Linked DNA regions of Homo sapiens. Changing the gene in region 1 together with any one later gene gives a genetic interaction. Each region holds a gene or a part of one and is shown in the gene's direction. Other genes may lie near its edges.

What was found.
Region 2: changes in IGF2BP1 (region 1) and HDAC8 together harm fitness more than expected from each alone (negative genetic interaction), as found in Homo sapiens cells (one large-scale study listed by BioGRID).
Region 3: changes in IGF2BP1 (region 1) and MOGS together harm fitness less than expected from each alone (positive genetic interaction), as found in Homo sapiens cells (one large-scale study listed by BioGRID).

Annotation. Positions count from the first base shown.
Region 1 is NC_000017.11:49,045,885-49,049,384, forward strand, and holds part of IGF2BP1 (insulin-like growth factor 2 mRNA-binding protein 1), read left to right. Parts: intron 1-5; coding exon 6-137; intron 138-375; coding exon 376-489; intron 490-3,467; coding exon 3,468-3,500. UniProt on the Homo sapiens protein: RNA-binding factor that recruits target transcripts to cytoplasmic protein-RNA complexes (mRNPs). This transcript 'caging' into mRNPs allows mRNA transport and transient storage.
Region 2 is NC_000023.11:72,485,716-72,489,442, reverse strand, and holds part of HDAC8 (histone deacetylase 8), read left to right. Parts: intron 1-401; coding exon 402-510; intron 511-3,727. UniProt on the Homo sapiens protein: Histone deacetylase that catalyzes the deacetylation of lysine residues on the N-terminal part of the core histones (H2A, H2B, H3 and H4).
Region 3 is NC_000002.12:74,463,199-74,467,025, reverse strand, and holds the start of MOGS (mannosyl-oligosaccharide glucosidase), read left to right. Parts: upstream 1-1,643; 5' UTR 1,644-1,778; coding exon 1,779-2,130; intron 2,131-2,303; coding exon 2,304-2,530; intron 2,531-3,639; coding exon 3,640-3,827. UniProt on the Homo sapiens protein: In the context of N-glycan degradation, cleaves the distal alpha 1,2-linked glucose residue from the Glc(3)Man(9)GlcNAc(2) oligosaccharide precursor in a highly specific manner.

The DNA of each region.
Region 1 (3,500 bases):
CTCAGGCTCAGGGAAGAATCTATGGCAAACTCAAGGAGGAGAACTTCTTTGGTCCCAAGGAGGAAGTGAAGCTGGAGACCCACATACGTGTGCCAGCATCAGCAGCTGGCCGGGTCATTGGCAAAGGTGGAAAAACGGTGAGCTGTGAGGGCCAGGTTGAAAGCCCTGGGCCTTGGTCTCCAATCTCAGCAGCTCTCTCTGGTCTCCTGTACTGCTCAACCTCAGGACTCCTGATTTGCTCATTTACTTGATTCTACTCCCCAAGCTCAGGTCCTGACTCTTCCAGGTTCTCCCCACTAGTCACCCTGGCTCCTCCCTCCAACCCCACCCATGCTTTCTTGATGGCACCCTGAGCTCCTCTCTGGCCACCCCCAGGTGAACGAGTTGCAGAATTTGACGGCAGCTGAGGTGGTAGTACCAAGAGACCAGACCCCTGATGAGAACGACCAGGTCATCGTGAAAATCATCGGACATTTCTATGCCAGTCAGGTACATATGGTGCTCCCCCATTGAGGGAGGGCTGCAGGAGCCCAGGGAGCAGAGAAGCAGAGACTCTATAGAGGTTGACCTTCATGACGTTGACAAGTCCTGGGGCCTCAGCCACATCTGCCTGCCTCTAGGCTAGGTTATTGCCCTCTTTCAGGTGCAGAAGTGGGATGTGTAGATGACATATTACCTCTTATTACTCTCTAGGAAAAGTGATTTGACAAGTTTAATGTACATATATTGTGTATAACATTATATATATAAATAACATATATATGAATATATATTATATGTAAATATATATATATATGTTCTACGTTAGTCCCTCCCTAACCCCTTTCTGCACTGGTTAAGAAAGAAGATTAGTTTTGTTCATGGAATAATGATAACAGTACTAACACCCTGGATTGATGGCATTTTTGAAATGTAGTCCCTCTGCCTTTCGCAGAATGGCTGTTCTCTCCCTGGTTTCTGCTCTTCCACCCTCCCATTCCTTTCCCAGAACTCATCATTGCCGTTCAGCACTCGGACAGGCTCCAGAGCATGGAAGGGAAGGCCAATATCAGGTTCAAATTTTGCTGAACCTCAGCAAGGCAAGCAAACAGGTGGTTGGCAGCTAATGGTGTTTTCCTAAAGTCTTAAATCCATCATTGTTAGAACTGGAAAGGAACTTTGGAGACTGTTGATCACAGTTCCTACAATTCATAGAAGATATCCAGATCTTAGCAGGCTTGTGGTCTGCTGGGGCTGCTAGAGCAATTGGGGCAAACTGGCTCTTGGTTTTTTGGCTTCCAGTGCCCATATAGTATAGCATCAAGTATGAAGGTTTTGGATCCAGGGAGCTTTGACCTCAAACTTCACATACATAGCCTTTCTGCTATGTGACCTTGGATAAGTAACTTTCTCTGATAACCCTTTGAGAAGTATTAACAAGAGGCTTTAGTTACATCTCAACTATATATATATATAAAATAACAAAAAAGTATTAATAAGAGCCATAATAATAATAATATCTAAGATTTATCGATGCCTTTGTATACCCAGCACTGTTTTATGTGGCTTATGTATATTAACTCATTTAATTCCCACAACAATTTCATTTTATAAATGAAGCTTAAGAGGGTAAATGTGAATCTTTAATTCAGCGTTTTTTTTTTAAAGAGAGTAAAGGATACCTCCAAAGATGCATAAAGCCAGGATATATTAATATTAAACACTGAAGCAATTTTAGCTGATCAGAATGAGAATTAAATGAAAAGCTATGTAAAACATCAAGCCAGGGTTGATGGAGTTGGACCTCTTATTGACTTACACATTATTTTCCCAACCTAGATCAACTTCCTCTTTTTTTTTTTTTTTTTGTGACAGGGTCTCGCTCTGCCATCCAGGCTGGAGGGCAGTGGTGTGACCACAGCTCACTGCAGCCTCTACCTCCCAGGCTCAAGTGATCCTCCCACCTCAGGCCCCCCAAGTAGCTGGGACTACAGGCAGGTACCACCACGCTCAGCTAATTTTTGTATTTTTTTGTAGTGATGAGGTTTCACCATGTGGCCCAGGCTGGTTTCAAACTCCTAGGCTCAAGTGATGTCACTGCTTCAGCCTCCCAAAGTGCTGGGATTACAGGCATGAGCCACAATGCCCAGCCTCAGCTGCTTCTTTAACCAGGAAAGGAAGCACTCATTTATGGAAAGGAGACATTCTGGTCTTCATTCTATGAAGTGAATCCCATTTTGCAGTTTATTTCCTTTATAAAACTTTATTCTTAGGGAAGAACCTTTTAAGAAGGAAATAATAAAAGATTGGGTATTTTGTCCATTTTTACAGTGAAGCTTATGTATTTATGCTTTTTGACTAACCCATATCTGGACTTTATTTTTTATTTTTACTTTTTTTTTTTTTTGAGATGGAGTCTCGCTGTGTTGTCCAGGGTGGAGTGCAGTGGCACAATCTTAGTTCACTGCAACTTCCGCCTCCCCTGTTCTAGTGATTCTCCTGCCTCAGCCACTCAAGTAGCTGGGATTACAGGCGCACGTCACCACGCTCGGCTAATTTTTGTATTTTTAATAAAGATGGGGTTTCACCGTGTTGGCCAGTCTGCTCTCGAACTCCTGACCTCAGGTGATTCACCCGCCTCAGCTCCCCAAAGCGCTAGGATTACAGGCATGAGCCACCGTGCACCTGGCCATATCTAGACATATTATTCCTTTTCCTGGGGTATTAAAATGAAGCGTGGATTTGTGATGATGTCTTCTAAGTTACGACCCTCTACAACAGGAGTCCCCAAACCCCGGGCCACGGACTGGTACCGGGCCACACAGCAGGAGGTGAGCGGCAGACGAGTGGGCATTACCTCCTGAGCCCCGCTTCCTGTCAGATCAGGGCGGCATTAGATTCTCATGGGAGGGCTAACCCTGTTGTGAAGTGCTCGAGGGATGCGCAGTGCATGTGAAGGATCTAGGTTGCACACTCCTTATGAGAATCTACTGCATGCTGATTTGAGGTTTCATCCTGAAACCACTTCCCCACCCCCACCTCCATCCGTGGAAGAAAAATTGTTTTCCATGAAACCAGTTCCTGGTGCCAGAACAGTTGGGGACCACTGCTCTGCAATATGTAATATATTTCTGCCTAGAAACTCTAGGCATTCTGTTTTGCGTTTGGTAATGTTTATCAACTTTGTCAAGTTTTAAATTCTGATGAATGGATTGATACTACTGTTTCTCCTTCCTTCAAGTCCCCCAACCCCATCTCCCACTTAACACCCACCACGTTTGCTGTATTTTCCAGGGGATACTCAGGCTCCACTGGAGGCAAAGAAATGTAAGGTCACCCCAACCCTCATTCTTCCTCTTTATCTTTCTTCTGAGTCCTGTGTGACCTGTTCTGTTTATTGCCTGTGTCTGGACCTGATGACCTCTCTTCCGTGGAAGGCTGTCTCCTTGGAGGTCTCACACCCACTCTCTTGCCTGTTCTTGCTGCAGATGGCTCAACGGAAGATCCGAGACATCCTGGCC
Region 2 (3,727 bases), on another chromosome or scaffold:
ACAATAACAAGAAGAATGACATTAAAGCTGTTTCTTTTTCCAGGTGATTTTTATGGACTGTTAACAGATCACTTATGCTTACTATACTAGTAGACACCCCATGCAACTCCTAACATCCTGAATAATTGCAGTGATAAATTGATGTTATGTCAACCTAAAAAGCATGAAGCCAAGCAAAGGAGTTAATCTCTTATTTTTTCATTTGATCCAGTAAGGTGAAAACTGAGGTTTTTCAGTTTCCTTATGATTTGCCTGCTTCTCCAAGATTGTTTACAATACTTACTTCTTTATATAATTTTTCTTAATTTCTTTCCCTAGAAATTTCCCTATCAGGAAATCCTTTAAGTTTTCTGGGTTCTCATGTTCCTAATAACTGATCATAGTGCTCTTCTCTTTTATAGGAACAGGTGACGTGTCTGATGTTGGCCTAGGGAAGGGACGGTACTACAGTGTAAATGTGCCCATTCAGGATGGCATACAAGATGAAAAATATTACCAGATCTGTGAAAGGTATGGCAGTAACACTAGCCAGTAATAAGTGGATTGCAGTTCTGTAGGATGAAATGGCCCCCATCTCACAATGTAAACAAGAACAATGTAAAAAAGAAAACATCTATATACCTATAAAGCTTTTGTATACTGGTCATTATGCTTATTTGATCAGTAGCTATCCGCTGTATGGCAGAGCCAAGCAGTTGGACCAGAGCCATGCTCCAGGTTGGATCTTACTCAATATGATTAAGCCCATCCCAAGAGCAGAGCTTTTTTTGCTATCCTGAAGAATCCCTTATTTGCTACTTTCTTAGCTAAATAAACCTACATGTGTCTTATTTCATTAACCTGGCAGGGTTCATTTCAGTTGTCAGGGTTCATTATGGAGACCTGTGCTTTCTTCTACTGGTGTAAATATTAGAGAATTGACTATTATTATTCATCATGCATTCTTACCTTCTATCCACTGTGTTAAAATTGGAGTCAGATACCTGTTCTTTCTACACCATGGCTAAGGATTAAGTTACAGACAATCGTAGACAGACAGATTGGTGCCAATGTGTGGACCACTAGAGTTGAAAAGCCTTATGGAATGGGGGTGGGGGGTTGTGTTAAACTCATATTCATAAAAATTGAGATTGGTCAGGCACAAGTGGTGGCAGAGAAAGCAAATCCGAATAGAAGTCAGCCAGTCAACATTACTGAAGGTAAGTAACGGGGATTGAGGTACTCTTGATCCCTCCCCAACTTAGCTCGTATTTCTCCCAACCTCTGGTGGAGGTTCTTCCCAAAGAAGCCTGCCTGCACTGGCCATCATCACTGGCAGTTGTATAAACAAAGCAGAACTATTAAAAAATAAAAACTTTATGCTTCAAAAGTGCTTCTTAGCTCAAGAGATTTGGTGAGCCAAGTCATCATTCAGTTATTCAGCAGCATAAGCCTCTTCATAATTTTGATCATGTCTCCTGGCTACCTCTGTATTATCATGCTGAAAAAACTTTTTTTTTTTTTTTTTGGAGCCTGCCATCAATGGTTTAATTGCCCTTCTTTGTTCCCCTTAAGCTCTCTTCTGTCCTTGAGATGTGCAGATCAGAGCTGCTTATGTAACTTTACCAATAAAGATATCCTGCAGTTCTATGTAAAAGGAGAATTATTTTGTTTTTCTTTTAATCCCTTTCTTAACAGTGCCTGATTTTGTTACCCTTTTTTTTTTTTTTTTACCATAACAGAAAACTAGGTTGTTCTCTTCAGTGCACTGTCCACAGTGTCTCCTCGAGCCCTTTCCTGGGTCTTAATTGAAAGGTCAGCACTCATCATCCAGCAAGTATAGTTTGTAATATCTAGTGCTCCCTAGATGGATCACCCTAAATGGATCACCTTACATGTACCCCTTACAAAGCCCTAAATGGATCACTTTACATGTGCCCCTATTGAAGGTTATCTGCCAATCATAAAACCTCCTGAGATCTTCTTTATCTCCCATCAACTTGGCATTTCACTGCCTGGGAAAGCTGAGTATTATCTGTAGACTTGAGGATTTTCCAGTGCCCACCCCCAAGGAAGTCTATTTATCCTTCTTCAGTCAGAAAAAATATCTGTTTCTACCCTATATTTTCTCTTTTTTTTCTGTAGACCAGTTCCTACTACATGATAAAAAATATTTTAAATCCCATGGTAATTCATGTTTAAAAATAGCCTTGGTATCAAACCTAATCAGAAGCATTTTTAAAGTAAGTTTAGCCCCAAGGAAAAGATCTGTAGAAGATTACACATGATTTCGCTTTACAAAAAGCATGATGCCACCCACATCCCAATAGATTGATGGCTTTTGTGTACAGGAGGCTAGCATTTATTAAAAATTCTTCCAGCTTGCCTACTGAAGAACCAGACACTCATCAGTTTATAGTTCCCAGGGCCCCTTTGCCTGTGGACCCACATTGGCAATGCAAGCCACACAGTGATCATCCAGAATAACAGGTTCCAGGTTTTCATTAGAGGTATAATAATTTTTTTTCTTTGCTTTCCTTCAGAAGTCAAGTCTGGTCAGGGCATTATGTGAAGGCACCTCTGATTCCAAGGGTACCAAGGAGGCTTCCTGGCCCAAACATCTCTCCTATCTGTTGGATTAATACCTGAAATTCCTTTAACAGGAAACATACTTTTATTCTACAATTAGAAATAGTCCTTAAAACGAAATTTTGGCACAACCTCTCATCCTCACCCCTGCTGTACTATAGAAGTATAGTTTCACAGAACCTTTCTTTTTTGGGGTTGTGGACAGGGTCTTCCCCTGTTGCCCAGGCTGGAGTGCAATGGCATGATCACAGCTCACTGCAGCCTTGACCTCCTGGATCCAAGTGATCCCCTTGCTTCAGCTTCCCAAGTAGCTGGGGCAAACAGGCACACGATACCACATCTGGCTAATTTAAAAAAAAGAAACTTTTAGTAGAGATGAGGTGTAGCTTCACAGTGCCATTCTTGAGAATGAATTGTGAAAGGGTCAGAGCATGAGCTCCTTGAGTATTCTGAGGAGCAGGAATTGCCTAGTGGAGCAGTAGAGGGAAAGGGGTACCAAAAACCACAGCGATCTTTGCCAAGAGTTTTGCAGAGGGCCAGCCCTGGTAACTAGATCACTCAGTCCCAGGCATTATGCCTTTGAATACTTCTGGTATGTGGCTTGGAAACAGTCTCTTACACATTTGCCATTGTTACCTCTGACCCTTCTGCCTACCTCAAAAGATATATTACACAGAGGAATGGCTTAATCTTTTTGTAAAAAGTCATTTAGTTTATCTACTATCTTCTTTTCATCCTTTTATTTTATTTTATTTATTTATTTTTATTTTTTTGGAGATGGTGTCTCACTCTGTCGGCGATCTAGGCTCACTGCAAGCTCTGCCTTCCGGGTTCACGCCATTCTCCTGCCTCAGCCTCCCCAGTAGCTGGGACTACAGGCGCCTGCCACCACACCCGACTAATTTTTTTGTATTTTTAGTAGAGACGGGGTTTCACCGTGTTAGCCACTATGGTCTCGATCTCCTGACCTCGTGATCCACCCACCTCGGCCTCCCAAAGTGCTGGGATTACAGGCATGAGCCACCACGCCTAGCCCCTTTTCATCCTTTTTATTTCATGACCCCACTGGTTCTCTGGCTCACTCCTTACTTGTGATGTGTAAAGGACCTCTTATTGCTGGTTCACTTATAAGATGCTCTCATTTTTATTTGCCACCCAA
Region 3 (3,827 bases), on another chromosome or scaffold:
GCCCAGATAATTTTGTATTTTTTAGTAGAGACGGGGTTTCTCCATGTCGGTCAGGCTGGTCTCGAACTCCCAGCCTCAGGTGATCCGCCCGCCTTTGCCTCCCAAAGTGCTGGGACTACAGGCTTGAGCCACTGCGCCTGCCCTAAGAGGCCTTATTCTAAAGTCAAAAGAACAACCTGGATTTGAGTTCCCCAGCTCCATAATTAACTGGCTGTTATTTTGGGTCAGTCTTAACTACTCTCCTCATCTGTAAAAATGGGGGTGGTCTGGCCAGGCGCGGTGGCTCACGCCTGTAATCCCAGCACTTTGGGAGGCCGAGGTGGGTGGATCACCTGAGGTCAGGAGTTCGAGACCAGCCTGGCAAACCTGGTGAAACTCCATCTCTACTAAAAATACAAAAATTAGCTGGGCGTGGTGGTGGGCACCTGTAATCCCAGCTACTCGTGAGGCTGAGGCAGGAGAATCACTTGAACCCTGGAGGCAGAGGTTGCAGTGAGCCGAGATCATGCCATTGCACTCCAGCCTGGTGACAGAGCGAGACTCCGTCTCAAAAAAAAAAAAAAAAAAAAAATGGGTATGGTTCAACATGCATTGAGTGCTGGCATTGTGCTTCTAGACTGTGAACTTGAGGTTGGGGCCATTTTCTCTGAGTCCCCAGCACCTTGCATAATGCGATATAGGGTGTACAATAAACATGTGTTGAATTTATAAATATTTAGCATCTGCCTTATGCCTATAATTGATTAGTACTGTGATACAAAGATGAAAAATGAAACAGGTATGTAATAAGTGCTACAATAAGGATGTCGACAAATGCAACGGTAGCAAGAAAGACAAAAACAGGACTAACCATTGGGTTTGGTCAGATGATTTCATAAGCAAAAAGTCTACCACTAGTGGAGAGTGGGGCCACCAGTCAGATTATAGTGAAATATAAGTGGTCGTGTTGCATAAAGCATCAGTCTCTCTCTCTCTCTCTCTCTCTCCCTCCGTCCCTCCCTCCCTCCCTCCATCTCTCTCTCTCTCTCTCTTTCTTTTTTTTTGAAACAGTTTCACTCTTGTTGCCCAAGCTGGAGTGCAATGGCGCAATATCGGCTCACTGCAACCTCCGCCTCCCAGGTTCAAGCAATTCTCCTGCCTCAGCCTCCCGAATAGCTGGGATTACAGGCACCCACCACCACACCCGGCTAATTTTTGTATTTTTAGTAGAGATGGGGTTTCACCAAGTTGACCAGGCTGGTCTCCAACTCCTCATGTCTGGTGATCCACCTGCCTCGGCCTCCCAAAGTGCTGGGATTACAGATGTGCGCCTCGGTGCCTGGCCACATCAGTCTTTTTTTTTTTTTTTTGAGACGAAGTCTCGCTCTGTCGCCCAGGCTGGAGTGCAGTGGCACAATCTCGGCTCACTGCAACCTCCGCCTCCCGGGTTCAAACGATTCTCATGCCTCAGCCCAACGTTAGATTGGTTTTTCCGAGCCTGTGAACTCCATGGGGTCGCCAGATAAACGCAATCCCGGTGGACCAACGCCCAGGACAGACGCTACGTACCAACCCTGTGTCAAGCCGCAGGCAGCGGTTCCGGACTCTGGGACTTAACCTAACGTGGCGGGGCGGGACTTCCGGCGGGAGGCGGAGGCGGAGGCGCAGGCGCTGGCTGGCAGGTGTCGCTAACCGGACGGTGGTCGCCAGGGCGAGAGGCGGGAGCCGGAGAGGTGAGGCAGGACCCGGGCTCCACTGCCGCCTCTCCGAGCTCTTGTGACGCGGACCTCAGTGCCAGGATGGCTCGGGGCGAGCGGCGGCGCCGCGCAGTGCCGGCAGAGGGAGTGCGGACAGCCGAGAGGGCGGCTCGGGGAGGCCCCGGGCGACGGGACGGCCGGGGCGGCGGGCCGCGTAGCACGGCTGGAGGAGTGGCTCTGGCCGTCGTGGTCCTGTCTTTGGCCCTGGGTATGTCGGGGCGCTGGGTGCTGGCGTGGTACCGTGCGCGGCGGGCGGTCACGCTGCACTCCGCGCCTCCTGTGTTGCCTGCCGACTCCTCCAGCCCCGCCGTGGCCCCGGACCTCTTCTGGGGAACCTACCGCCCTCACGTCTACTTCGGCATGAAGACCCGCAGCCCGAAGCCCCTCCTCACCGGTAACCGGGCCCCAGGGCGGGCAGGCAGGCGGACTCCTAATCTGGGCGCCCCAGCTTGAAGCGAGAGCAAGGGTGGGAAGGAATGGATCAGGAGAGTTATGAAGAGGGATGACCCGGAGACCCGGAGGGACAGGTCCCCTGCTCTTTGACTTACGTGGCCATTCTACCCCCAGGACTGATGTGGGCGCAGCAGGGCACCACCCCGGGGACTCCTAAGCTCAGGCACACGTGTGAGCAGGGGGACGGTGTGGGTCCCTATGGCTGGGAGTTCCACGACGGCCTCTCCTTCGGGCGCCAACACATCCAGGATGGGGCCTTAAGGCTCACCACTGAGTTCGTCAAGAGGCCTGGGGGTCAGCACGGAGGGGACTGGAGCTGGAGAGTGACTGTAGAGCCTCAGGTCAGGGCCTCAGGACACCCTTTTCTCAGCCCAGACCCCCTCCATCCTTCCCTTGCTGCCAGCAAATGCAGCATGAAGTGGGCTCTGGCTGCCTGGCTTAAATCCTGCCTTAAACAACTGCCTGTATAACCATTTCTATTTACCATCTCTAAGCCTTGATTTCCTTGCTTGTAAAATGTACAATGTAGATAATAATAGCACTTAACTCACAGGACTGTAAGAATTAAATGAAAAAGAGGCTGGGCGCGGTGGCTCACGCCTGTAATCCCAGTACTTTGGGAGGCCGAGGCTGGCGGATCACCTGAGGTCAGGAGTTCCAGACCAGCCTGACCAAAATGGAGAAACACCGTCTCTACTGAAAATATAAAATTAGCCGGGCGTGGTGGCGCATGCCTGTGATCCAAGCTACTTGGGAGGCTGAGGCAGGAGAATTGCTTGAACCAGGGAGGTGGAGGTTGCGCTGAGCCGAGATCGTGCCATTGCACTCCAGCCTGGGCAACAAGAGCAAAACTCCATCTCAAGAAAAAAAAAAAAGCCAGGCGCGGTGGCTCACGCCTGTAATCCCAGCACTTTGGGAGGCTGAGGCGGGCGGATCATGAGGTCAGGAGATGGAGACCATCCTGGCTAACACGGTGAAACCCGGTCTCTACTAAAAATACAAAAAATTAGCTGGGCGTGGTGGCGGGCGCCTATTGTCGCAGCTACTCGGGAGGCTGAGGCAGGAGAATGGCGTGAACCTGGGAGGCGGAGCTTGCAGTGAGCTGAGATCGCGCCACTGCACTCCAGCCTGGGCGACAGAGCGAGACTCCGCCTCAAAAAAAAAAAAAAAAAAAAAGAATTAAATGAAATCAACTGTGTAGAGTTCTTAGTGTAGGACATAGTACAAAAGTATACTGTTATCTCCCAGGGCACCCAGTGCAAGGCTCTTTATCTCATCCCGCTTGGGTGTACCTGGTTACCCTCAGTGACCCTCATTACTGCCAGACGTATGTTGTTTACATTACCCCTGCCTACTGTTCCTTTCCCTCACTAAGGCTGATTCTCAAGAGGGAATTCAAGAGAGAATGCCAATCTAACACTGTTCTTTTCTGTCCTCGTTGGTCACTCAGGACTCAGGTACTTCTGCCCTCCCTTTGGTCTCCCTGTTCTTCTATGTGGTGACAGATGGCAAGGAAGTCCTACTACCAGAGGTTGGGGCCAAGGGGCAGTTGAAGTTTATCAGTGGGCACACCAGTGAACTTGGTGACTTCCGCTTTACACTTTTGCCACCAACCAGTCCAGGGGATACAGCCCCCAA